Linked DNA regions of Homo sapiens: region 2 is linked to region 1. The links come from fine-mapping of genetic effects on gene expression. A gene starts in region 1. The other region holds a variant in brackets. All regions are shown on one strand. Distances are from middle to middle. Region 1 holds the start of CNGA4 (cyclic nucleotide gated channel subunit alpha 4). Region 2 holds the start of CAVIN3 (caveolae associated protein 3).

What was found. PIP is the estimated chance that this variant, and not a neighbour inherited with it, causes the effect.
Region 2: its variant is fine-mapped to the expression of CNGA4 in tibial artery (GTEx, PIP 0.97).

Annotation. Positions count from the first base shown.
Region 1 is chr11:6,235,569-6,243,568 of GRCh38, forward strand. It overlaps CNGA4 (cyclic nucleotide gated channel subunit alpha 4), which reads left to right and starts at 3,521. Exons shown (of 6, transcript NM_001037329.4): 1 at 3,521-3,700; 2 at 3,816-3,917; 3 at 4,116-4,222; 4 at 4,498-5,143; 5 at 5,863-6,212. The coding sequence starts at 3,639. RefSeq lists an enhancer at 1-5.
Region 2 is chr11:6,311,860-6,327,900 of GRCh38, forward strand. CAVIN3 (caveolae associated protein 3) reads right to left here and starts at 8,642. Exons shown (of 2, transcript NM_145040.3): 1 at 8,234-8,642; 2 at 7,087-7,705. The coding sequence starts at 8,617. The coding sequence ends at 7,304. LOC101927825 (a long non-coding RNA gene) reads left to right here and starts at 7,282. Exons shown (of 7, transcript XR_930998.4): 1 at 7,282-7,838; 2 at 11,726-11,833; 3 at 12,035-12,176. RefSeq lists enhancers at 7,318-8,055, 8,599-8,648, 8,859-9,218, 9,229-9,288, 9,319-9,408. The variant A/G (reference allele first, on the strand shown) is at 7,617.

The DNA of each region.
Region 1 (8,000 bases):
CGAGTCTTGGGAAACAAGCAAGAGTAAGATAAACTAAAATAGAAAAATAGAAGTTTCAGATAAGGCATGTAGTTTTAAAAGTACTTTACCGGCTGGGCGCGGTGGCTCACGCCTGTAATCCCAGCACTTTGAGAGGCCGAGGCGGGCGGATCACGAGGTCAAGAGTTCGAGACCAGCCTGACCAACATAGTGAAACCCCGTCCCTACTACAAATACAAAAATTAACTGGGCGTAGTGGCGCGCGCCTGTAATCCCAGCTGCTTGGGAGGCTGGGGCAGGAGAATCGCTTGAACCCGGGAGGCGGAGGTTGCAGTTAGCCGAGATCGCACCACTGCATTCCAGCCTGGGCGACAGGGCGAGACTCCGTCTCAAAAAAAAAAAAAGAAAAGAAAAAAAGAAAAGTATTTTGCCAATGTTAAATACCTGGTTTTTATCATTGTGCTATAGTTATGTAAGATCATAACGTTAGGGGAAGATGGATAAGGAATTTATGAGAACTCTGTATTATTTTTGCAACTTTTCTGTAAGCCTAAAATTAGTTCAAATAAAAAGTATTTAAAAAGAAATAGAAGTTTCAGACCAAAGGATCAGCATATACCAGGGAAAGGAAGAATGGACAGCATGTGGGAGGTGCTGTAAGAACTGCAATCAGTACAGTGTGTCGGGAGCCTAGGGAACATGTGAGGAAACATTGTGAGATGAGGCTGAAGACATGGACTGGAGAACTTTATAAACCATGTTAAGGAATTTAGATTTTATTTTTGGGATGATAGCTATAAAGAATTTTATACATAGATTGATAGTTATACAGTAACTTTGCAAAAGACCAAACAAGCTGATAAGGCCCAAACTAGAGTAGCAAAAATGCAGAGAAGTGGACATGTGGATTTTTAGAAGGTAGATCACCATGGTTTGATGATTGGGTGGATATAAGAGGAAAATAAGAGGAAGAATTAAAAACTAATGCTTAGTTTATATAAATTCAAAAACAGGTAAAACTAAACTGTGATATTAGAATTCAGGATAGTGATTATTCTTGGAAAAACATTGACTGAAAGGGGCAGAGTGGGGCTCCTGAGGCACTGGTGATGTTCTGTTTCTTGATCTGAGTGCTTGGTTATATGGGTGTGTTCACTTTGTGAAAATGTATTAAGCTATATACTTAAGGATTGTACACCTTTCTCTGTGTTTGTTTGTTCTGGTTACTATGCTATGTGACAAACCAACCCAAACTTAGTGTCATAAAAACAATAGCCATTTTATTATGTGCACAAATTCTGGGAATTTGGACGAGATGCAACAGGAATGGCTTGTCTCTATTCCATGATGTCTGGGGCCTTATTTGTAAAGCTTGAACATCTAGAGGTGGTTTGAGGCTGGTGGCTGGAAGCATCTGGAGGCTTCTTCAGTCACACATCTAATTCCTGGGCTGGGATAATGAAAAAGCTGAACTCATTGGGCAAACTGTCAAACAGAACTTCTCACAATGTGATGGGTAGGTTCCAAGAGGGAACATTCTGAGAGGGAGCTACCAGACAACACGCATTCCAAGAGAACCAGAGGGAAGCTGCATGGCCTTTTATGATCTAGCCTTAGAAGTCACACAACATCACTCCTGCTATACAAACTATCACAAGGGAGTGGTGTCGAAGAATTTGTGACCATTTTTTTTAACTGCCACAACATTATACAGTAAATAGTAATAAATGCTTGTCATAGGTTTTTTTGCTGAAAGGGCATAGATAGGAATTCTAGAAGAAAAAGTGGAGGAAGATAATGAGCTTAGTTATAGACCCAATGGGTTGAAGGTGACCGCGGGATACCCAAGTAGGAACATCCAGTGAGCAGTTAGTCATATAGATAACTGAAACTCAGGGAGAGTTCTCGGGAGCCACTATATGAGAAAGGAAGTCCTGTGGGTGACTGACGTCAATCAGACAGAGTTAGGAGGATGGCAAAAGTAGAAAGCCTAGAACAGAATCCAAGAAAAAAAAAAAACACCATCATAGAAGGAATAGACAGAGGAGCTTATGAAAGACACTAAAAAGAAACAGCAAACCAAGACATTATGGCATTACAAAGGATTTTATTCATTTTGTTGCATTACTTTGAATGTTGTCTTTTTATTTTAACAAGCGTAATACTTTGCAAAAAGAAATTAAGAAGCCATGGGAAAAGAGAGTTTTTCAAAATTTAATTAGGGACCACAGGTTTTTCTTCTAAAACACACTCCAAAAACACAAACCTGATTTTATCACTGAACTGTGAAAAACTCTTCACAGGTTCTCTATTGCCGTTGGGTAAAATCCAAGCTTTATAACATGGCTGACAGAACTCCTCCTGAGCTGGCCTCTGTCTATCATTCAACCTCATCTCTCACCACTACCCGCTAGGCCCTCTAAAATAAGCCAATTGATATTTGCCCAGTCACCCACGCTTTTTGATATCTCTATGCCTTTGCCCACTCTGTGCATTCTGCCTCTAGTGCTCTTCACCCTCCCATCTCTGTACCCAACTCCTATTCATCCTGCAGAACCCAGGCTCTGTAGGGCCACTTCATGTGTACTATAATAGCCTTCCGTGTATCCAGCTAACAGAGTACTCATCAGCAGCCTGGCAATGACTGCTGCTGTTTAGTTACCTCATGTGTAATTACCTGCTGGCCTGACTATTTCACCTAGCAGACTGTGAGCTTCTGGAGAAGGGGGAGCGTGTCTTATTCATCTCCAATTCCTAGTATTTAGCACAATATTGGCCTGGCACACAGAACACCTGCCTATGGGTGTTCTGATTTTGATTTGTTGACTGAGAAAGATGATAGCAGTGAAAGGAACATCAGGTTGAGGGAGAAATTGTAGGGTTTTTGTTTGTTTTGATATAGGAGATATTGAAGCAGGTTCACAAAAAGAGAAAAGTTGAAAGATTGGGGACCATAAAACACATGGAATGGTTGGTAGGATCAGGCACTAGAAGTCACAAGAAGGATATGAGGACAAAAGCACCATAGGATGGCCCCTATCACACTACCTATGAGAATGGTGTGATGGGGGAAGGCGTATGTGGAGGTAGATAAGGGTAGGAAGTAGGTTACAAAAATAGAGCTCACTTCTCATGTGAGAGGCATCTCTTTGTCCCTGGAGAATAGTTTAGCACCTGACATAGATAAGCCATTCAGTAATAGTTGTTAAATAAATAAATAGTGAGGCCCAAATAGAATTTGCAAAGATAAAACAGAGTGTTTGATCCTACACTAAAACTGAGGTCTTCTGACCCAGAGGACACCTATGTAGCTCAGTTGCTGTGGAAAGAGGGGAGGAGGAAAACAGAGACAAGACTCAGGCTTCCCTCTGAGGCATGCACCCCCACCTTCTCCAGGGATCTCATTAGAGGTGTTTAGCTGGGCAGGTGTAAGCCCAGGCCCTGGGAGACAGGGCAGAGTGCTAGAGCTAGACTGTCTCCACCCCTTCAGTAGCGCTAGCTCTGGTTGTGTTGCTAAGAGCCCCAAAGACAAAGAAGTCACAGCAGAAGCCCAACAGCAGCCTCCTTCAGGCAGTCAGGCACTAGTGCCCAACTCCAGAAGTCCCCTACAGGCAGAGAGGGTGTGGACATCTCACACCCCAGCACCAGACCACAGAACCATGAGCCAGGACACCAAAGTGAAGACAACAGAGTCCAGTCCCCCAGCCCCATCCAAGGCCAGGTGAGAAGTCCTGGTCCCTTGTGTGGGATCTCTCCTCATTCCTCTTGGTGCCCCAGTCACAACTACAGCTTTGAATGCCTGGTGAATAAATGAAGCAAGACTTTCTTTCTTACAGGAAGTTGCTGCCTGTCCTGGACCCATCTGGGGATTACTACTACTGGTGGCTGAACACAATGGTCTTCCCAGTCATGTATAACCTCATCATCCTCGTGTGCAGGTATGGCAGCGGTGCTAAGGGAGGGGCTGGAAGCCAAAAAGAGGACTAAAGAGAGGTCAAGGAGAAGGGCAGACCCTTGGTGGGGCAGGAGGAGCAATTCCCATGGGAGGGCCTGAGGCAGAGGGTTAAGGGCCCTGGGGAGACGCCTCGCACACAGAGGGTGCCCTTAATTCAATCATGCTTAACCCTGCCCTGCAGAGCCTGCTTCCCCGACTTGCAGCACGGTTATCTGGTGGCCTGGTTGGTGCTGGACTACACGAGTGACCTGCTATACCTACTAGACATGGTGGTGCGCTTCCACACAGGTCAGTGGGCTTCTAGGAATGACCCTTTGTCCCACATTCCCTTCCTAAAGATAGCCACTTAAGAAGTAACAAGAAAGGCACCCCCACCGTGGTAGCACCTTCGCGTGCCTCTATGCCTGACAGCATCCCAGTGCTCACCCCGGAAAGCCGGGAGCAGAGTTATGCCTGGCTCCACTCTGTCCTTCAGACAGTCTCCCTGGCCTGCCCTGGGCAGCTCATGCTCAGCCCAAGCTTGACTACAGCAGGTCCGCTTCCTACCGGCTCCCTCTCCCCAGGATTCTTGGAACAGGGCATCCTGGTGGTGGACAAGGGTAGGATCTCGAGTCGCTACGTTCGCACCTGGAGTTTCTTCTTGGACCTGGCTTCCCTGATGCCCACAGATGTGGTCTACGTGCGGCTGGGCCCGCACACACCCACCCTGAGGCTGAACCGCTTTCTCCGCGCGCCCCGCCTCTTCGAGGCCTTCGACCGCACAGAGACCCGCACAGCTTACCCAAATGCCTTTCGCATTGCCAAGCTGATGCTTTACATTTTTGTCGTCATCCATTGGAACAGCTGCCTATACTTTGCCCTATCCCGGTACCTGGGCTTCGGGCGTGACGCATGGGTGTACCCGGACCCCGCGCAGCCTGGCTTTGAGCGCCTGCGGCGCCAGTACCTCTATAGCTTTTACTTCTCCACGCTGATACTGACTACAGTGGGCGATACACCGCCGCCAGCCAGGGAAGAAGAGTACCTCTTCATGGTGGGCGACTTCCTGCTGGCCGTCATGGGTTTCGCCACCATCATGGGTAGCATGAGCTCTGTCATCTACAACATGAACACTGCAGATGCGGCTTTCTACCCAGATCATGCACTGGTGAAGAAGTACATGAAGCTGCAGCACGTCAACCGCAAGCTGGAGCGGCGAGTTATTGACTGGTGAGAAGGCGGGGTTCCAGACCAGGACAGGGACCAGTGTAGGTGATGGAACCTGAGGGAGGTAACTGGGTCCTTAGTGCCTGGTGAGCCAGGCAAGGCTGTCAAAATGTAGCATTCAGCCGTGGGTTTGCTGGCTGGGGCTTGGAAAAAGGGAACTTCTTTCAACTGAGGGAATCAGGACTTGGGGGAGGGGTAGGTAAGAGACTGATAGGGAGAGGAGCTCATACTCAAAAAAGGATAATATGGAGACCAGGGAATGGGAAGTGCCACTGCCTGGTAGGGCTCAGAAGGCTCTGGAAGGAGTGGGTGAAGAAGGGCAATCCCCCCTGAGAATGGTCAGCAACAAGATCATTGGCTACCTATGGTGATTCATACTGTGGACTGAACAAAAGGAAGTGTCACAAAGTTGGGGAAGTAGAGCAGAGGGTCCCCAGAGAGGAGGGGCCCTTGGTGGCTGAGGTAGCTAAGGGTAGGGGTGGAACAAGACATCACTGATTGGTGGGTAGGGTAGAGCCTGATAGGAGGTGAAGGGTTATGTAAAGTGGTAGAGGTGTCTATGCCCTGGAAAACAGGTAATCCAACTGTCAGGTACTCCCATGACCCCTGTTAGATCTCAGTATGGTGGGATTCTTGGCTGGAGCTGAGCTGAGCCCTGAAGGAAGGGATGGAGGCAGGCACATAAAGGGCTGGTAAGGAAATGGCACTGTCCTTACTCTCAGGTATCAGCACCTGCAGATCAACAAGAAGATGACCAACGAGGTAGCCATCTTACAGCACTTGCCTGAGCGGCTGCGGGCAGAAGTGGCTGTGTCTGTGCACCTGTCCACTCTGAGCCGGGTGCAGATCTTTCAGAACTGTGAGGCCAGCCTGCTGGAGGAGCTGGTGCTGAAGCTGCAGCCCCAGACCTACTCACCAGGTGAATATGTATGCCGCAAAGGAGACATTGGCCAAGAGATGTACATCATCCGAGAGGGTCAACTGGCCGTGGTGGCAGATGATGGTATCACACAGTATGCTGTGCTCGGTGCAGGGCTCTACTTTGGGGAGATCAGCATCATCAACATCAAAGGTGGGTATCCCAGTATTTGTTCCAGGGACAAGGATGGGTGGGGTAGGGGGGAACAGCAGAGCCCAGTGCTGGGACCAGATAGTACTTCAGGCCTAAACTTCTGATTGAGGAAACCTGGCCCTTCTCTGAGTCACTAGATGGCTCAGGAGAAAAACAACACATAGAGGATCCATTCCCTGAGAAGAAGCTGAGCCAAGGCCAGTGAACAGGGTGGGTTCGTGGAAGAGAGAGTAGACTTGCTCTGTGGATATTCACCTGAAGCACCAATAGACTAGTGGACAGTGATAGAGATAATAATAATAATAATAGCTAATATTTATTACCTGCTTACTGCATCCCCTTTTCTAAGTGCTTCACATGATATTAACTCATTACATTCCCGCAGCAGTTCTATAAGATAAGTACTATTCTTATCCCAATTTTAAAGATAAGGAAATCAAACTCAAAGAAGTTGGGTAATTTGCCCAACGTCGCACAGGTATACACATGTGGGATGAGTGGAAAAAACAACCTTTTTACAGCCAAGTGGAAAGAGAAAGGTAGAAGAGAAGAAGTTCCCATTTACTGACCATCACCTCTAGGCCAAGCCAGGTACTACCTACTGGCTTGCTTTTTCCTCTCATCAGCCCTGTGCAGTAGGAATTGTTATGCCTAATCACAGGTATTAGGCATGAGGTCGTGCAAGCAGGAAATCCTGCAAATGGGGTAAGCACACTGTCATGGACCGAGAAGCTGGATGTGCTCTGGCTCTCTCAGCATGAGGATTCTACCCTCAGGGATTCTGAAAGCCTCACATCTGTCCTCCAATGATCCCCTCAAGCTCCACATCCTGTATGTGGTAGGATGCTGTCTGTTTGACTTTGGACAAGTCATTTCCCTATTTAGGCCTCAGTTTAATCACCTATCCAATGAGGACAATAATAAAAACCCAATGAGTTATTTGTGAGAATAAATGAGCTATGTGAGTGAGGCATCCAGCGCAGTGCTTGGCATACAGCAAGTGTTCAACAAATAGTAGCTCCCTTTCCCTTGTCCAAGGTCCTTCTAGCTCTAAGACTTTGCAGCATTCAGCCTCACCTATCTCCCCACCCATTCTCCACCAACATCTTTCTAAACTGCAAAGGATATCATACAGCTCCCTGCTTAAAATACTTCAATAGTTTCCTACTGCCCTCAGCATAAGGCCTGAACTTCATGTCATGGCTTATGAGACCCAGTGTGACCTAGATCTCCCCTCTCTCCACCCTCCCCACACTCTGCGCTTCTCGCACTCTGAACTGCTTACTATTTTCTGCATCCAACTGACTCTTTTCTACCCCCTTCCCTCTGTTCCTGCTCCTTCCTCTGGCTAGATTGCCCTATCCCCACTTGTCCCCCTCCTCCCCCTAGTTACCTCCTACTCAGTTCAGGTGTATGAGACTGTTCTTGCATTTCTATAAAGAAATATGTGAGACTGGATAATTTATAAAGAAAAGAGGTTTAATTGGCTCACAGTTCTTCAGGATTTACGGGAAGCATGGTGCTGGCATTTGCTCAGCTTCTAGGGAGGCTTCAAGAAGCTTATAATTGTGGCAGAAGGCAAAGGGGGAGCAGGCATGTCACACGGTGAAAGCAGGAGCAAGGGTTGGGGGAGGTGCCACACTTTCAAACAACCAAAACAACCAGCTCTCGACTCACTAACTCAAAGACAGCATCAAGCCATGAAGGATTCGCCCCCATAATCCAATCACCTCCCACCAGGTCCCACCCCCAACATTGGGGATTACATTTCACATGAGATTTGGGCAG
Region 2 (16,041 bases), 80 kb after region 1:
TAAAGTAAGGAAGAATTTGAAGTTAAAAACATCAGAATAAGGCTGGTCGCGGTGGTTCACAGCTGTAATCCCAACATTTTGGGAGACCCAAGCAGGCAGATCACTTGAGGTCAGGAGTTCAAGACCAGCCAATATGGCAAAACTTAGTCTCTACTAAAAATACAAAAATTAGCTGGGCGTCCTGGTATGCACCTGTAATCCCAGCTACCTGGGAGGCTGAGGCAGGAGAATCTCTTGAACCTGGGAGGCGGAGGTTGCAGTGAGCCAAAATTGTGCCACTGCACTCCAGCCTGGACAACAGAGTGAGACTCTGTCTCGATTAAGAAGAAAAAAAAAAATCAGAATAAACTCATGATTCTAAAAGACTCTGATTGTCATAAGAACATTTGAAGCAGCTGTTGATGTCACCCTGCCCGCAGTGGAAGCATGGGAAATAATCTACTCAATAATCAGACTTGGGTCTTATGCTGGTTTGCCACAGAAGGTATCACCAGATAACTTGGGCCACATACTAGAAAATCAAGATAAGTATGGAATAGACTGTTGTAACAAGAAAACAAGAATACCTCCATAGATGATTCAAGTATTTAAGAAAAAAAAAAGACAAAAAAGCTTAGTCTGTTTTGTGCTGCTATAACAGAATACCTGAGATTCAGTACTTTATAAAGAACAGAAATTTGTTTCTCACAGTTCTGGAGTCTATAAAGTCCAAGATCAAAGTTCTGTCATCTAGTGAGGACTTTCTTGTTATGTCCTCACATGGTGGAAGGCAGAAAGGGGTAAACCCACTCCCACAAGCACTTTTTATAGCAGCATTAATCCATTCATGAGGGCTATGAAAATTGTCAAAATCAAAATGGAGTCACTTGTGTTAAAAACCCTGACAAATAGAGCTGAGGAAGGGTATGAAGGAGGGATTCTTGTGCACGAATTCTTGATATCACAAAAGACTTTGCAAAACCACAGCCTGCACAAAAGCCATCACAACTTTACACATAAAAAAAAATGCTTCTGGCCGGGCGCGGTGGCTCATGCCTGTAATCCCAGCACTTTGGGAGGCCGAGGCAGGCAGATCATCTGAGGTCGGGAGTTCGAGACCAGCCTGACCAACATGGAGAAACCCCATCTCTACTAAAAATACAAAATTAGCCGGGCATGGTGATGCGTGCCTGTAATCTCAGCTACTCAGGAGGCTGAGGCAGAAGAATTGCTTGAACCCAGGAGGCAGAGGTTGCGATGAGCTGAGATCACACCATTGCACTCCAGTCTGGGCAAAAGAGCGAAACTCCATCTCAAAAATAATAATAATAATAATGCTTCTGAGAGGACATCTGCCTAGCAACTCTCTGTCCAATCTTGGACTGGCACCACCTTTGTTATTAATCCTTGTAGTCAACAATAATTATCTCAGAACAATTATATAATCCTCCTCATTTTTCCTTTAAAAACCTTTGTCTTCCTTTACCTCCTGAATATATACATAATTTACTGTGGAAGACATACACATTCCCATTGTAACGCCTATTCCCAAATAAACATCATTTTCTTCTAGAGAGTCTTCCTCTCCATTTGTTATTTAGGTTGACAGGTCAGAGTTCTCATGACCTAAACAACTCCCATTAGGCCTCATTTCCCTCCCAAAACTGTTGCAATGGGGACTACATTTCCAACACATGAATTTTTGGAGACACACTCAAATCATAGCAAAAAAAAAAAAAAAACACGTTGAAAAGAGCTCCCATATACCAAGAAGTGACAGGTAAGCATCAGGAGAAAACCTACCAGCCAGCAATTGATACCAATTCAGTCTTTAAAAAGAGCCATGAATTCATAACTATTCTAAAAATGAAAGGTAGGAGAAGGGAAATCATACTAAAAAGTAAGATATGTATCTTTCAAATTAGCTTTACAAAATTATGGAATAATGATCAAGTTAACTGAATCAAACATTCGGAGAGTTGGTCAACACAGATGTTAACAATTTCAAATGGTATGCAAACATAAGAAGGGTACATTTGTAATTTTTTTTAAGTTTAAGAGTATTAAAATACATTTTGACTAGCCAGATTTAGAGATATCTAAAGGTTAGGGCAAAACAGGTAGACTGTTGGGGAAAGTGGGTAAAGAAATCAGAATAAACCAGGCATGTAAATACATAAAGAATACAGGAAGTAATAATGATATCATAAAATTAATGCTACATTTAATAATCCACATTACTTTAGAATGGTCTAGTCCATGAGTCTCTGTGAAATAAAAGGAGTTGTTTAAATTGGGTTGGACTGCTCTGTCTTCATTCTGTGTTGGAGAGAGGAAGATCTATAGAAGTCCAGAAACAATATGACTCATAATAGGGGATCATCTCAAACCTATCTTCTCTAATAAACCAGACTTCCTAACAAAATGTCCATGCTTAAGACACAGGTTATGGATTAAAGAAAATAACTATCAGAATAATTAAGCTCAATCTCACAGGACCGGGGGTAGGGGATGATTGTTGGACTCTTGTTTTAAAATGACTGAATAAAGACTGTGCTTTCCACCATCATGTTAAAAATAATTCTAAAATAGAAAAGAGACCATGAATGCAAACTCTGTCTGCCTTTGATGAAACTAAGAAATATCTGAAACCACAAGGATAGATGTCAAGACAGTACAGAACACTTTAGTGTTGGAAATGCTTGTGGAATAGACAGCATTCGCGTTCTCTTCAATGCTGAGGTTATATGATTCCTCTGCTCACAATAAAGGAAAATCAAAAGGACGTCTAGTTCTTAACTAGGGAAGAAGTTTCCTGCCAGGAATGTATATATTTTTGCCCATGTAAGAGGCATGTCAAAGCAGAAAGTGGGCATATTATGTTAGATTATCCTGCCCATTATCTTTATCCAGTTTCTACTATTCTATTGCATTATACCTAGTTTAAGATCTTACTTTGGCTTCCCATGTAGACTTTGTTGAAGGATGAAAAATGTTTTGAATAGCTAGCTAGACTATTCCAGTCACTTGGCCATTAGATTTCTTCGGGAAATTAATGAATCCAGCAATCAAATTAATCAGTGTTTTCTGAGTGCAGTTATTGCAGATCAGCCTAATCTTGCTGGAATGCAAGATAAATTTGTGTTTCTGGCCTGAAAAGTTGAAAGCCAAAGTGAATGTTAATGATCCACTAATGTACCTTCCGTCTGCTTAAATAGCTGCTAAATGCCACATGTGCTGGATGACAAGTTGGTATTCTGTCATTGTCTCCACTTCCTTTATTTTACTTTTTTAAAGGCAAGGTCTCATTCTGTCACCCAGGCTGGAGTATAGTGCCATGATCATAACTCACTGCAACCTTAAAATCCTGGGCTCAAGCAATCTTCCCACCTCAGCCTCCCAAGTAGCTAGGACTACAGGTGTGCCCCCATGCCCAACTAATTTTTTTTTAAACTTTTTTGTAGAGACAGGGTTTCACCATGTTACCCAGGATGGTCTTGAACTCCTGGCCTCAAGCTATCCACTCACATCAGCCTCCCAAAAGGCTAGGATTACAGGCATGAACCACTGCACCTGGCCATTAATGTTTAACAATATTAATAATAACAACCAGCAGTGATAATGGAGAACATAATATAACAAAATGAGCTATGAAGAAATTTAACTAATTTTGTTTTAACTTGATCTTATTATTTGCTGCTATAGACAACTCAGGAAGAAATAAACATTAATATACCCTTCCCTTGCAAAATTAGTCAAGCCTTTGGGTTTCTAGGGGTCAAGATGTTTTATACGGAAAATGCACACTTAGTTCTTAATTCTAATTGTGGGTTGAAAGGGGAAAATCAAGTAGATTTCCAGGAATTTGAAAAAACAAGAATTTATTTTTCCTTGGGGACAGAGAACTGAGTCTGCTCATACCAGTCCCATTGAGACGGCCAAACCTTGAAAGGGGCACAGTCTGAGCACCAGGGTTGGGAGCCTGCAGGAGAAGGGTTGAATTTCCCCAGACCAAATGGAGCTACTGCAGAGCCGCCTTCCATGGAAGGACCCCTGCCCGCTACACCTCCTCTACCCTAACTGTCCCCAATATATTGCCGGTCAGGCTGACCTCCGGGTAATTAGAGGAGGCACCAACGAGGACACTGGCTCCCCGACACTGACATCGTGTGGTCATAAGGAGCAAGGGCAGCAGAGACATGCAAAGGCTGAGAGATGGTATGAGCCCCCTGGTACTGCACAGTCTCGAAAACGGGAAGATAACTAAAATTGCTAATCATCAACTTCCCAACAGCATGGCAGGCATGTGGGGGCTTAAACTCTTCTTATTGAATCCATGAAAATAAAAATGTGACACCACTCAAACTCAAGTGTCAAGGAGTAATTCATACGTGTAACTCTGGTCCCAATATTACTCCCCAGTGTCCTTATCTAAAGAACACCCCCACAAACCTTATCTGTATCCTTAGTCTGTTTTCTTTTTCTTCAGAGCTCATAACCAGAATGCCCTTGTGGTTCATGTGCTTACTTGTTTTATCTGGCTTACATGTTTACTTATTTATTACCTGTCTCTTCCTACTGGAATTTAACTCTATAGAGGTATGGATCTTCTCTTTCTTATGTGCCACTGTATCCTCAGATTTTATTTTATTTACTTTATTTGTTATTATTTTATTTTTTGAGACAGACTGTCGCCCTGTTGCCCAGGGTGGAGTGCAGTGGTGCAATCTGCAGCCTCTGCCCCCTAGACTTAAGCAATTCTGGTGCCTCAGCCTCCCAAGTAGCTGGGACTACAAGTGTGCACCACCACATCTGGCTAACTTTTTGGGTATTTTTAGTACAGACGGGGTTTCGCCACGTTGGCCAGGCTGGTCTCAAACTCCTGGAGTCAAGCGATCTGCCCGCCTCAGCCTCCCAAAGGGCTGGGATTACAGATGTGAGCCACCACGCCTGGCAGTATTCTCAGATTTTAAAATAGCACCTGGAAGACCCTAAGAGTTCAGTAAGTTATTTGTTGAATGAGTGGACAAATAAATTATATACCTGAAGCTTATGGAGCAAAAACTATACTCCGGCAATGTGCTGGGCACTTGATTTATGTCACTTAATCTTTCCAACAATCTAAGTAAGGGGCTATAATTATCTCATTTTATAGATAAGGGAACAGAGAACCCAAACTACCCACCGCTGAGCTCTACTGCCCCTTGCCATTCCTGTTTTCCATCTCACTATTTACCATTTCCAAGAACAATTCCTTATATATCTCCCACTTTTCCTCCTTCAGGTTGGGTCATGCCCCTTCCCCATTTGCTCTCAAAATAACTTACATGTAACCATCATTCATTACAATTGGTGATGGTATCTCCCTCTAAATCCCGAGCTCCCCAAGGTGTTCATGAGACCTAGCATAGGGCCTGGAACAAAGTAGGTATTAAAAACGTTGTTATATGATAGTGACTGAATGAAGGAGTAGGTGACTGTGCTCCTCATCCTTAACCACCACTCCCACTTCCAGTTTTTTGTTTTTCCTTTTTTTTTTTTTTTGAAACATGGTCTCATTCTGTCACCCAGGCTGGAGGGCGGTGGCATGATCTTGGCTTACTGCAACCCCTGCCTCCTGAGCTCAAGTGATCCTCCCACCTCAGCCCCCCAAGTAGCTGGGACTACAGGCACAAGCCACCACATCCAGCTAATTTTTGTAATTTTTGTAGAAATGGGGTTTCATCATTTTGCCAAGGCTGGATTTGAGCTCCCAAGGTCAAGTCCTCCACCCACCTTGGCCTCCCAAAGTGCTAAGATTACAGGCATGAGCCACCGTGCCCAGCCCCTTCTGTAATATTCTTGCTTTACTGCAGCAGGGAACTCTCCTCAGCCCCTCAAGAAGGTCTACCGTGTGCCAGACACAGTATTTGGTGTGGGAAATACAGAAATTAATAAAACTGTCCCTACTGCAAGAGAGTCACAATCTAGTAGATCGGAGGGGGCGTAACCACAAATCCTCACAATCAGTGCAGTTAGCACTAGAGGTGTGCAAGTGGTGCTTTGAGAGAAGGAAGAGAAATACCTGGCCCTGAAACAGGTGTGCTTTACTGAGTTTGGCAGGATAGCAGGGATGACAGTGAGAGCACAGAGCTCAGTGTGACTCAATGGTAGCACAAGGGGAAGTGGTGAGAGATGAGGCTACAAAAATAGGCAGGGACCAGATCACAAAGGGCCTTGAAAATAATTATAAAGAGCTTGGTCTTTATTCTGAAGATAATGGGGAGACACTGAAATATTTGAATCAAGAATGATGTGATGAGATTGGCAGTTCAAATACCGGTCAAGTGAAAGGCCTGAAATAAGGCAGCGGCTGTATTAGAAAAGTGGACAGATTGCAGAGGTAAAATCATTAGAATAGCTGTTTCCATGTGGGAGGGGGATGAGAGAAAGTCCTTGAGCCGACAAGGACTCCCAAGTTTCTCTGTGGATGATGGTATATTGATTTTTTTTGTCATCATTGGTAAAGAAAACACAAGAGGGGGAAATATTCTGAACCATACCTAGTAGGGCCTGCCACATAGTAGGTGTTCAATAAATAGCTGTTGAACGAAATGGAATTTAAAAGGTAGAAGATACTTGCTACTTTTGAAGCACTTTTCAACTGTGGCTCAAGACAGTGGTATGGGGTGTACGCAGCTGGTAGGGGAGGCCTAGGCATGAATGTCAACCGAAAAGTACCCTGAGTAAAAAGAGGGCCAAGAAAGGAATCCTGGAAAACTCAACTTTTAGGAGGTGCCAAGGAAAGAAAAGACTAAGAGGAAAACCATTAGTTGACACTGAGTAAGCACCTACAGCAAGGACTATACTGGATGCTAAAAAAAAAAACACACACACACACTCACACAAAAACAACAACAACAAAAACTGCAACTGTGTGTTCCCATGAGGAAAGTGTTTAAAGAGCAAGTGGTCAGAAGGATATTTCTATGTGTCACTGGAGGCTAGAACCCAGGACTCCGTGGAAACTGGAGAAATTGTACGATTCCAGGTTCCAACATTTGTCTTATTCCTTGTAACTGCCTTCCCACATCCAACCGCTTCCCCATCCCTTCTCACGGAGTCTGGTTCGGGTGAAATTACTTTTATTGATGGTGAGCGCAAGCAGGTGTGAGTGACTGCACCTCTTTCAGAGGACACAGGACTGGGCTTAAGGAAGGGAGGGCCAGAGCGCCCGCCTTGGTGGATGTAGGATTCGCTCCTTATTAGGGCGTGAGTGCTACATTCTGAAAGGATTTATTTTGGGACAAGGCACAAGCACAGGGGAGGCAGGCAACACCAGCCCTCAGGCTACACTCTCCATTTGGAGCAGAGCTTCTTCGGCAGCCCCAGGTCTCCCGGGATCTTCCTCGGTGTCCTGCGGAGGCTCTGGCTCCAGCGTGGGCTCCAGCGCAGGCTGGGCTTCCGGCTGGGCTTCAGCGCTCCGGCCAGGCCCAAGGCGAGGCGGCTTGACCGGGGTGGGCGGTGGCGCTGCAGGGCCTTTCCGGCCCGAAAGGGCCCTTCGGAGGCTCTGTACCTTCTGCAATCCGGTGCGCCGCAGCCGCTGGGCCCTGGACTCCACCGGCTCCTCGTCCGAGCTCTCTCCAACTTCGGCCTCC[A/G]GCTGCTCTGGGCCCAGCTCGGACTGGTCCGCCGGGCCCAAGGGCTCTGGTGCCTTCTGGAAAGCGCTGGCTGGGACTTCACCCTCCTCCTGCATGTGACGGACACAGCACTGATCCTGGCAGCTCCTTACCCCCAGCAGCCCGAAACTCACTCCTTAATTACACAAGGGAAACCTTTTACCTCCGCAGCCAGAGTCTGGGGGGAAAGGCAGGCGTGGGAAGGTAAGGGGAGGGAAAGCTGCGTGCGAACTGCAAAACGCTGTAAAGTAGGTGAGGCCTGGTGAGGGGCGAGAAGAGGATAGTGCCCGCAGTCACGGAATGCCCTTTCAACCACCGTTATTTTAGGGATTGGCTGGGACTCAGACCAAATTCTGCGGACGTGGCCTGAGCTAGAGCTGGGCGGGCTTGGATTGGCCAGGCGGGGCTCAGGCGTGAGAGGGAGGGATGGGGCTGGGTCTTGGGAAGTGGGTGCGGCTCTGTGAGTCTGTTCCACAGCAACAGACGGCGGGAGGGGTCAGGAATGTGGGTGTGGTAGGTGGATGGAAGCGGGGAGCCCCCAGCTGGTGGCCCACAGGCCGGCAAAGGCCTCGGATTGGGGACCGTTTGAGGTCACTGACCTTGAAGAGCAGAACGTGGAGCTTCCCGCGCGCCACCAGCAGCCCGTGGTTGGCCTCCAGCCGCTGCACCTGGGCTGCGCGGCGCACCGCGCGCTCTTGGGCGGCGTTGGCGTGCGAGCTCACGCGCTCCGCCTTGGCCAGCAGCTGCGCCAAGGTGTTGCTGGTGGTGTCGTGGCTGCGACTCAGAGCGCCCAGGCCGCTCTGGATGCGGCGCACGGACCCTGCCAGGCCTCCCTGCCTTCGAGCCAGGCCTCCCTGCCGCTCCCGCAGAGTCTCCAGCATGGAGGCCAGCTTCTCCAGCAGGGTCACCACCGTCACGGCGTGCACGGGACCCCCCGCCGGCGCCTCGGGCACAGGCCCCCGCTCCAACGCACTCTCCCTCATGATCCCTGACCGCTCTGCTCCGTCTGCCTGCAACTGCTGGCCGCACTACGGTCAGGGGCCTCCTTTCCCTGGCTCCTCCCCAGCTCCAGCTGTGACTCAGGCAGGCGGAGTTGGCCTTCTGGGGCGGCGGGAGGGCGCGAGGGCGTGGGGATGTTGGCAGCGGGGTCTCTTGAAAGCGTTTCGCCTTCCGCTGTCCCGCGCCGGGGGCCTGCTGGGAAGCCTGTTGGCCCCAAATCGGCCCCCTGCAAACCCTCTCACTCTGAGTTTGAGTTACCCTCCTCCGCTCCAATTCCCTGGTGTGCCTGTTTCAGTTCTCCACTGCAAAGGGCGAGTCACGGAAATTTTTATTTCATGCATCTTAGTGGGCGCAGAGACTGTGTTGGCACGGCAAAGAGATAACCAGAGGGGCCTCCGTCGCCGTCCACTTTCGGCCTCCCACACCAGTGAAGATTGCCCCCAGGCTGGATGCAGGCGACAGGGAGGCCCTGGAACATTCTGCTTACAGATCGCGAACTGTCAAGGCCCGAGGCCCCGCTTTGTGACTTGGACAGGCTGCTCATTGTGGGCTGGCGGGCGGGGCATCCTCTGGTGTTTTCCTAATAGTCATCTCCAGGGTTTAGCCTCAGGCTTCGTTTCCTGCTTCTTTATTTCGTCCTCTTGGGTAGCATTATCTGGTTTCTTTTCTCTAGTTTTCTGCCCTCTCTTTCTTTGGGTTTCACTGGTAAATCTCAGCCGCCCCGGCCCCAGCACCCAAGCTTGGAGGATAAGCAGGACACCTTCACCTCTTTTAAAATCCTTAAAAGCGTTAGACTAGGCACTGGTCTTTGCTTTGATAGAGGTTACTTGGGCTCCTGCCTGACTTTTTTTGCTTGTTTGTTTGTTTCTTGTGTTCTGTGGAACTGCGGAGAGTAAAGATTTGAAATTGCTGCTGCAGAGAGGGAGAGAGTGGGCATGGAGGATCCAGTTAATGATGTGGATTGTGAATTTCTAATGTCAGCAGTTCGAAACATCCCATGCCTTAGCCGGGCGCGGTGGCTCATGCTTGTAATCCCACCACTTTGGGAGGCCGAGGGGGGAGGATCACGTGAGGCAGGGAGTTCCAGACCAGCCTGGGCAACATGGCAAAACCCCGTCTCTACTAAAAATACAAAAATTAGCAGGGCGTTGTGACACACGCCTGTAATCCCAGCTACTCGGGAGGGCTGAGGCAGAAGAATCGTTTGAACCTGGGAGGCAGAGAATGCAGTAAACCAAGATTGCTCCACTGCACTACAGCCTGGAGGACAGAGCAAGACTCCATCTCAAAAAAAAAAGAAAAGAAAAAAGAAAATCCCGTGCCTTGTTTGTAGCAATACTTGGCAAACCGTCTCACAAATGCAAGTAATCCATTAATCCTGATGATCTCTCTCCCTCTTCCTCTTCTCACTGAACCTGTGAGGGCCACTTGTTGACAACTGTGGAAGAAACTTGTGTCACTCTGGAAATAGTTACATGGGCCTGAAGTGCCACAGACGTGGGCAGCTAATGCCAGAAATCTGGTGATGCTAAGCTGATGGCTGATTTCTACAAATACAAGGCCATAAGCCTGACCCCTGCTGCTTAATACAAGAGAAAATAAGCTCTCTTGGGAATCTGGTGGGAATCACCATCTCTTCCAGTGAAACTACATTTACCCAGAGAGATCCATCAGGGATGTACCAGTTAAAATGCTTTCAGACTGAGGGAACAAAAACTCAATTCAAACAGTACTTAGTAACAGGAAACTCAATTCAAACATAATTGAAAAAGAGGATTGGTAGAGTGGTGATTAAGTGTGAGTCATTCACAGCTCCAAATCTGGTTTTCTACAGTTCTCTCCACTGCTCAACTATGAGCCCCATCCCGCACCTCTCACACTCCCCCATGTCCCCCACACACCCCCTACCCATGTGTATGTGCCCACATACGCACAGGTGTCAGCTTCATTCCAGGCCTCACAACTCTGCACAAGATCTTAAAAAAAAAAGGGGACCATCTTAAAATTTAGGACATTTATTTCCCAGAAGCCTCCCAGAATTTTTACACTTGCCTTCCACTGGGTTACATGGCTTTTCCAAATCCAAATTCTATGGCTACAAAAATGACATGCATTGATGGGTTTAGGCCTATGTTCCCTAAACAATCACTGACAAGAAATCTAATAATTGGCTTTTGACAAGTTAGATCAATTCTGAAGTAGAGTAGATTCAGCTTCCCCAGGAGTATTAGGGTGGTATGGGAGGAAAAGTGGATATCTGTACAAAAATCTGGGTACTACTGGGAATGGATATTAATATTACAGGAAGCCTATGAAAGAATCACCAGCTTTGATGAGTGGGGCTAAGGAAATTCAGTGCATTTGGAAGTAAGAAGTACTTGCATAGATACTTGGATAGATTTGGATAGATTTTTTTTTTTTTTCCTGAGACCAAGTCTCGCTCTGTCACCCAGGCTGGAGTGCAAACGCGCGATCTTGGCTCACTGCAACCTCCGCCTCCCAGGTTCAAGCAATTCCCCTGCCTCAGCCTCCTGAGTAGCTGGGATTACAGGCACGCGTGACCACGCCCAGCTAATTTTTGTAATTTTAGTAGAGGCAGGATTTCACCATGTTGGTCAGGCTGGTCTTGAACTCCTGACCCCATGATCCGCCCACCTTGGCCTCCCAAAGTGCTGGGATTACAGGCGTGAGCCACCGCGCCCAGCATAGACAGATATTTTTTTAAAACCTGGTAATGAAGTGGCATTGTTGTCTGGAGTAAATACCCGAGATTGGTTGTGTCACAGCTATGGAAAACTAGGACATGGACACACAAAGAGGTTCAGAGCAGAAGTTGAATAGGCAAAAGAAAAAGAAGAGCTCTCTGCAGCAGAGAGGGGTCCCAGAGAAATGGGTTGCTGGTTCCACCGTGGAATGCAAGGGATTTTATAGATGACCTTAAGGAGGCAGTGTGTCATTTACATAGGGCACAAAAGATTGGTTGGACCAGGTGTGTCATTTGCATACAGCTCAAAAAACTGGTTAGGGCTAGGTATGCCATTTGTATAGGCACAAAAAGATGGCCACCCCCACCCTAATCTTTTATTTTGCAGATGGGTTCTCTACCTGGCCAGTGCCATGTTGCCTGTTTCTTTACTGTAACTGTGGTGACAAAGAAAAGGGAAGATGGAGCCTCCATGTTGAACATACCTGGCCCCCAGGTAGCCCTTTTCTATTGACACAGCTGCTGGCATTCACCCCTGCAGGCTTCCAGCTTGCTTATCTATGTTTGCAGCTTGATTTTTCAGGCTGTTCTTTGTTAGAAAAGAAATGATTTGGGGGCTGATTTTTGTTAAAAGGGAAATTCTGCTGAGGACTCTTTTGCCCTCACTATCTGCCTAATTTTTTTCCATCTCCTGTAGCACTAACTCCCTCTCTGGATATCTGGAACAAGGAGGACCTTAAACTTAACAATAAAGCCAATGATGGTTCTACCAGTCTCCCCAAAGCCTCAAGTTTAAAAGCCATATGAACTGGCTGATAGTGGAAAATGGAAGCCATGAGGTAAGTAAAAATAACTTGGGGCCAGCTAGAAGAATGCCTGAGTCAATAATGCAGAGATTGACAGAAATTGTAGTAGAGTGACCTTGATTATAAAGTATCCAAGGAAGAACTGTATTGCAGTTTCCAAAAAGGGTAAGAAAAGAAGAAAACAAAGAAAGATGCAGAATGATGCCCTCTGTTCAAAAATAAACTTACGAACCTTAAAATTTTAAAGGGTTTATTTGAGCTAAGAACAATTCATAAATTAGGCTGCACTCAAGGCCAAAAGAGGTTCAGAGAGCTCAGCTGCAGCAGTGTGGGCAGTGAGCTTTTATAGGCTGAACATGGAAGTAAGACAAAGAAAATATATTTGATTCATTAATATGGAAATTCCCCTAGTTAGAGGTTAGTTGGTGGTTTCTGATTGGTAAGGTCCCTAGTTTTCTTTTACTTTTTACATTGGGCTTTGGTTTGCTTATGTAGGAATCAAATGTGGTGGAGCCATCTCAGCCTGATGGCTTCCCAATTAAAAAACTTTATAACACCTCTAAGGCAGTGGTCTTAAAAATTTCTATTCTTAGCCAGATGCGGTGGCTCACACCTGTCATCCCAGCACTTTGGGAGGCCAGGGTGGGCGGATCACCTGAGGTCGGGAGTTTGAGACCAGCCTGACCAACATGGAGAAACCCCGTCTCTACTAAAAATACAAAATTAGCCAGAGATGGTGGCACATGCCTGCAATCCCAGCTACTCGGGAGGCTGAGATGGGAGAATTACTTGAACCCAGGAGGCAGAGGTTGTGGTGAGCTGAGATTGTGCCGTTGCCCTCCAGCCTGGGCAACAGGGGTGAAATTCCGTCTCAAAAAAAAAAAAAAATTCTCTAAACTAGGGGTGTGGCTGGCATCTACTCTCTCATACCCCATGGTATGGACATGAAAAGTGGAAACTTATTGTCGCAGGTTGCTTGTGTCCCCAAAAAGATATATTTAAGTCCTAACCCCTGGTGCCTATGAATATGACCTTACTTGGAAATATAATCTTGCAAATATAATTAAGATGAGGCCATAATGAAGTAGAGTAGGCCCTTAATCCAATATGACTGGTGTCCTTATAAGAGAGGGAAGAGATACACAGGGAGAACACCATGTGACAACAGAGGCAGAGATTGGAGTTAGCTGCCACAAACCAAGGAATGCCCCAGAAACCGAAACAGGCAAGGGAGGATCCTTCCCTAGGAGCTTCAGAAGGAACATGCCCCTGCCAACACCTTGATTTCAGGCTTCTGCCCTCCACAACCATGACAGAATAAATTTATGGGGTTTCTGGCATTGGTGTTGGTGTTTTTGAGACAGAGTCTTGCTCTTGTCGCCCAGGCTGCAGTGCAATGGCATGATCTCAGCTCACTGCAACGTCTGCCTCCCGGGTTTGAGTGATTCTCCTGCCTCAGCCTCCTGATGAGCTGGGACTACAGGTGCCCGCCATCACACTTGGCTAATTTTTGTATTTGTAGTAAAGACAAGACAGGGTTTCACCATGTTGGCCAGGCTGGTCTCAAACTCCTGACCTCCAGTGATCCACCTGCCTTGGCCTCCCAAAGTGCTAGGATTACAGGTGTAAGCCACTGCACCCAGCAAAGTTCTGTTGTTTTAAGCCACCTAGTTTGTGACTTTTTTTGTTTTGGTAGCTCTGGAAAACTAATAACAACTTTGATTAATCAATATCAGTATTACAGTATCCCATTACCCAGGATGCTCCTGCAAATGGCTTCCCCAATTATGTGAAAGTATTAGAGTCTCTGTAGGAAAAGTTAATAAAACCTGAAGACTCACAGTAGAACACAGACAAACCAATAGTTGCCCAGATGTAATGAGTCTTGCAAAAATGAGTGGAATACTATGGTAGTTGAGCTAACAACTGCTTTAAAAAACTAAAAGGTATTACCCATCCTGTTTGTCAAGGGTTCCATTTATATACTGGCCCATCCCCTCCCCAGAGCACAGCCTACTATGAGGAAGAGTTGGCTGTACTAAGGAGAAACAAATCCACTACACCTTTCATCAGGCCTGGGGCTGTCTGAAATATATCTGCCTAACAAAGATCTGCTTAAGGGTGGCCCTCTGTCTCTACCTATTCAAGAACAGCTGGATGCTCCTTTCGCTTTAAGGAAATCTCTGAAAAAGACAGATCAGATCATAGTGCCTTAGATGGTATCATTCTGCATCTTTGTTTTCCTTCTTCTTTCAGTTGCCAGGTGCCCCACTATATGAAGTTGCCAAGATCCCCTAAAACAAAAGTGACAAAGGCACTGCCATTCTTCACATCATACCCAAGAGGATGAGTCTGTCCCACTGGGTTCAGAGACCATCCACCAGAAATCCAGCAGACAGGGATTACCTAGAATAGTAGTGCTTAAACTCAGGACAGGTAGTGAAACATGTAACACCTCCTACTGCAACAAAGAACAGAGGGAGGTGTTAGAGTCAGCAAATGCTTCACCTTGGAATTTTCACACACTCTATATCTTGAGTCCTCCAAAAGGCTACATACTTTCAGTAGGATTGAGAGAAGCCTCAGTGACTAACCCTGGCAAGTTACAAGCCACAGTATGGTCAATTCTATCCTTTGGGTCCTACAAGTCAGAAAGAAAAATGAGACCCTGAAGTCTCTGTGATTTCTACCTCTTCCACCAAGATGATTTGTCAGGGAGGGAGGAGGGCAGATCCTACAGGGGAAAATACAGCATAAGTATTTAGGATTTTTGACTAAGGAATGCTTTTAGCAGCTGAGAATTGTACTGCTTTTGAAAAACAATTGCTGGCTGATTACTGGAGGGGAATAATAGTACTAGAGGAGAGACTCGACAGAGGTTGCTGAGTGGTTTTGTGAATTGGAACCCTTTGTCTTACATAGCAATAGAGCTTAACAGTCTTTGATTATTAAATAGAAAAATCAAAATCTAAGAAAGGATGAGAGACATCTATGTGAGCTCATTACCAAAGAAATATCCCTGACCAGGACCCTCACTTTCATCTGCCCAGAAAAACTGATGCATCCTCCAGGCACTAACCTTTAAATCAAAAGTAACAATGTGAGGCACAGACAGACCACTCATTTAACAGGCAATGTGCCTCAGTAGACAGGCACTACCTTCCACCCTTTGTCATAGACATCCTGTCTACGGAAGAGGTAAAACCATTCCACACAATGAGGGAGCTCTGTGCCCCTGGCAGTTACAATAGCTATAAGTTTGAGGCATCAGGAAGTGAATTTGTACTGACTCCAGAAATCAAAATATCCAAATGGATGGAAGATCTCGGAATGGTATATTATGACCAGTAGGCTTAGGGATGCCTTTTATAGCAAGAATCACGCACATTATTCACTCAAATGACTATTTTTGTATCTCATATTTTAGTATGTTGAATAGTGTCTTAGTCCATTTTCTGTTGCTATAACTGAATACCACGGGCTGGGTAATTTATAAAGACAGAAGTTTATTTAGCTGATGGTTCTGGAGGCTGGGAAGTCTGACAGCTTGGTGCTGGCATCTGGTGAGAGCCTTTTTGATGCATCATAACATGGCGAAGGCATCATATGGCGAGAGGGCAGGAGTGTGCATGTCAGCTCAGGCCTCTTCTTCTTATAAAGCCACCCGTCCTATTTTGGGGACCCCACCCTGTTGACCTTATCTAATCCTAAGTACCTCCCAAAGGCCCCACTTGCAATCAACATATGAATTTGGAGATTAAGTTTCTAACACATGTAATTTGGTGGACACATTTAAGCAATAGCAAATAGTGTCCCCCCAAAAGATATATCCAAGCTCTAACTCCTAGTACCTGTGAATATGACCTTTGCAGATATAACTACATCTTTGCAGATATAA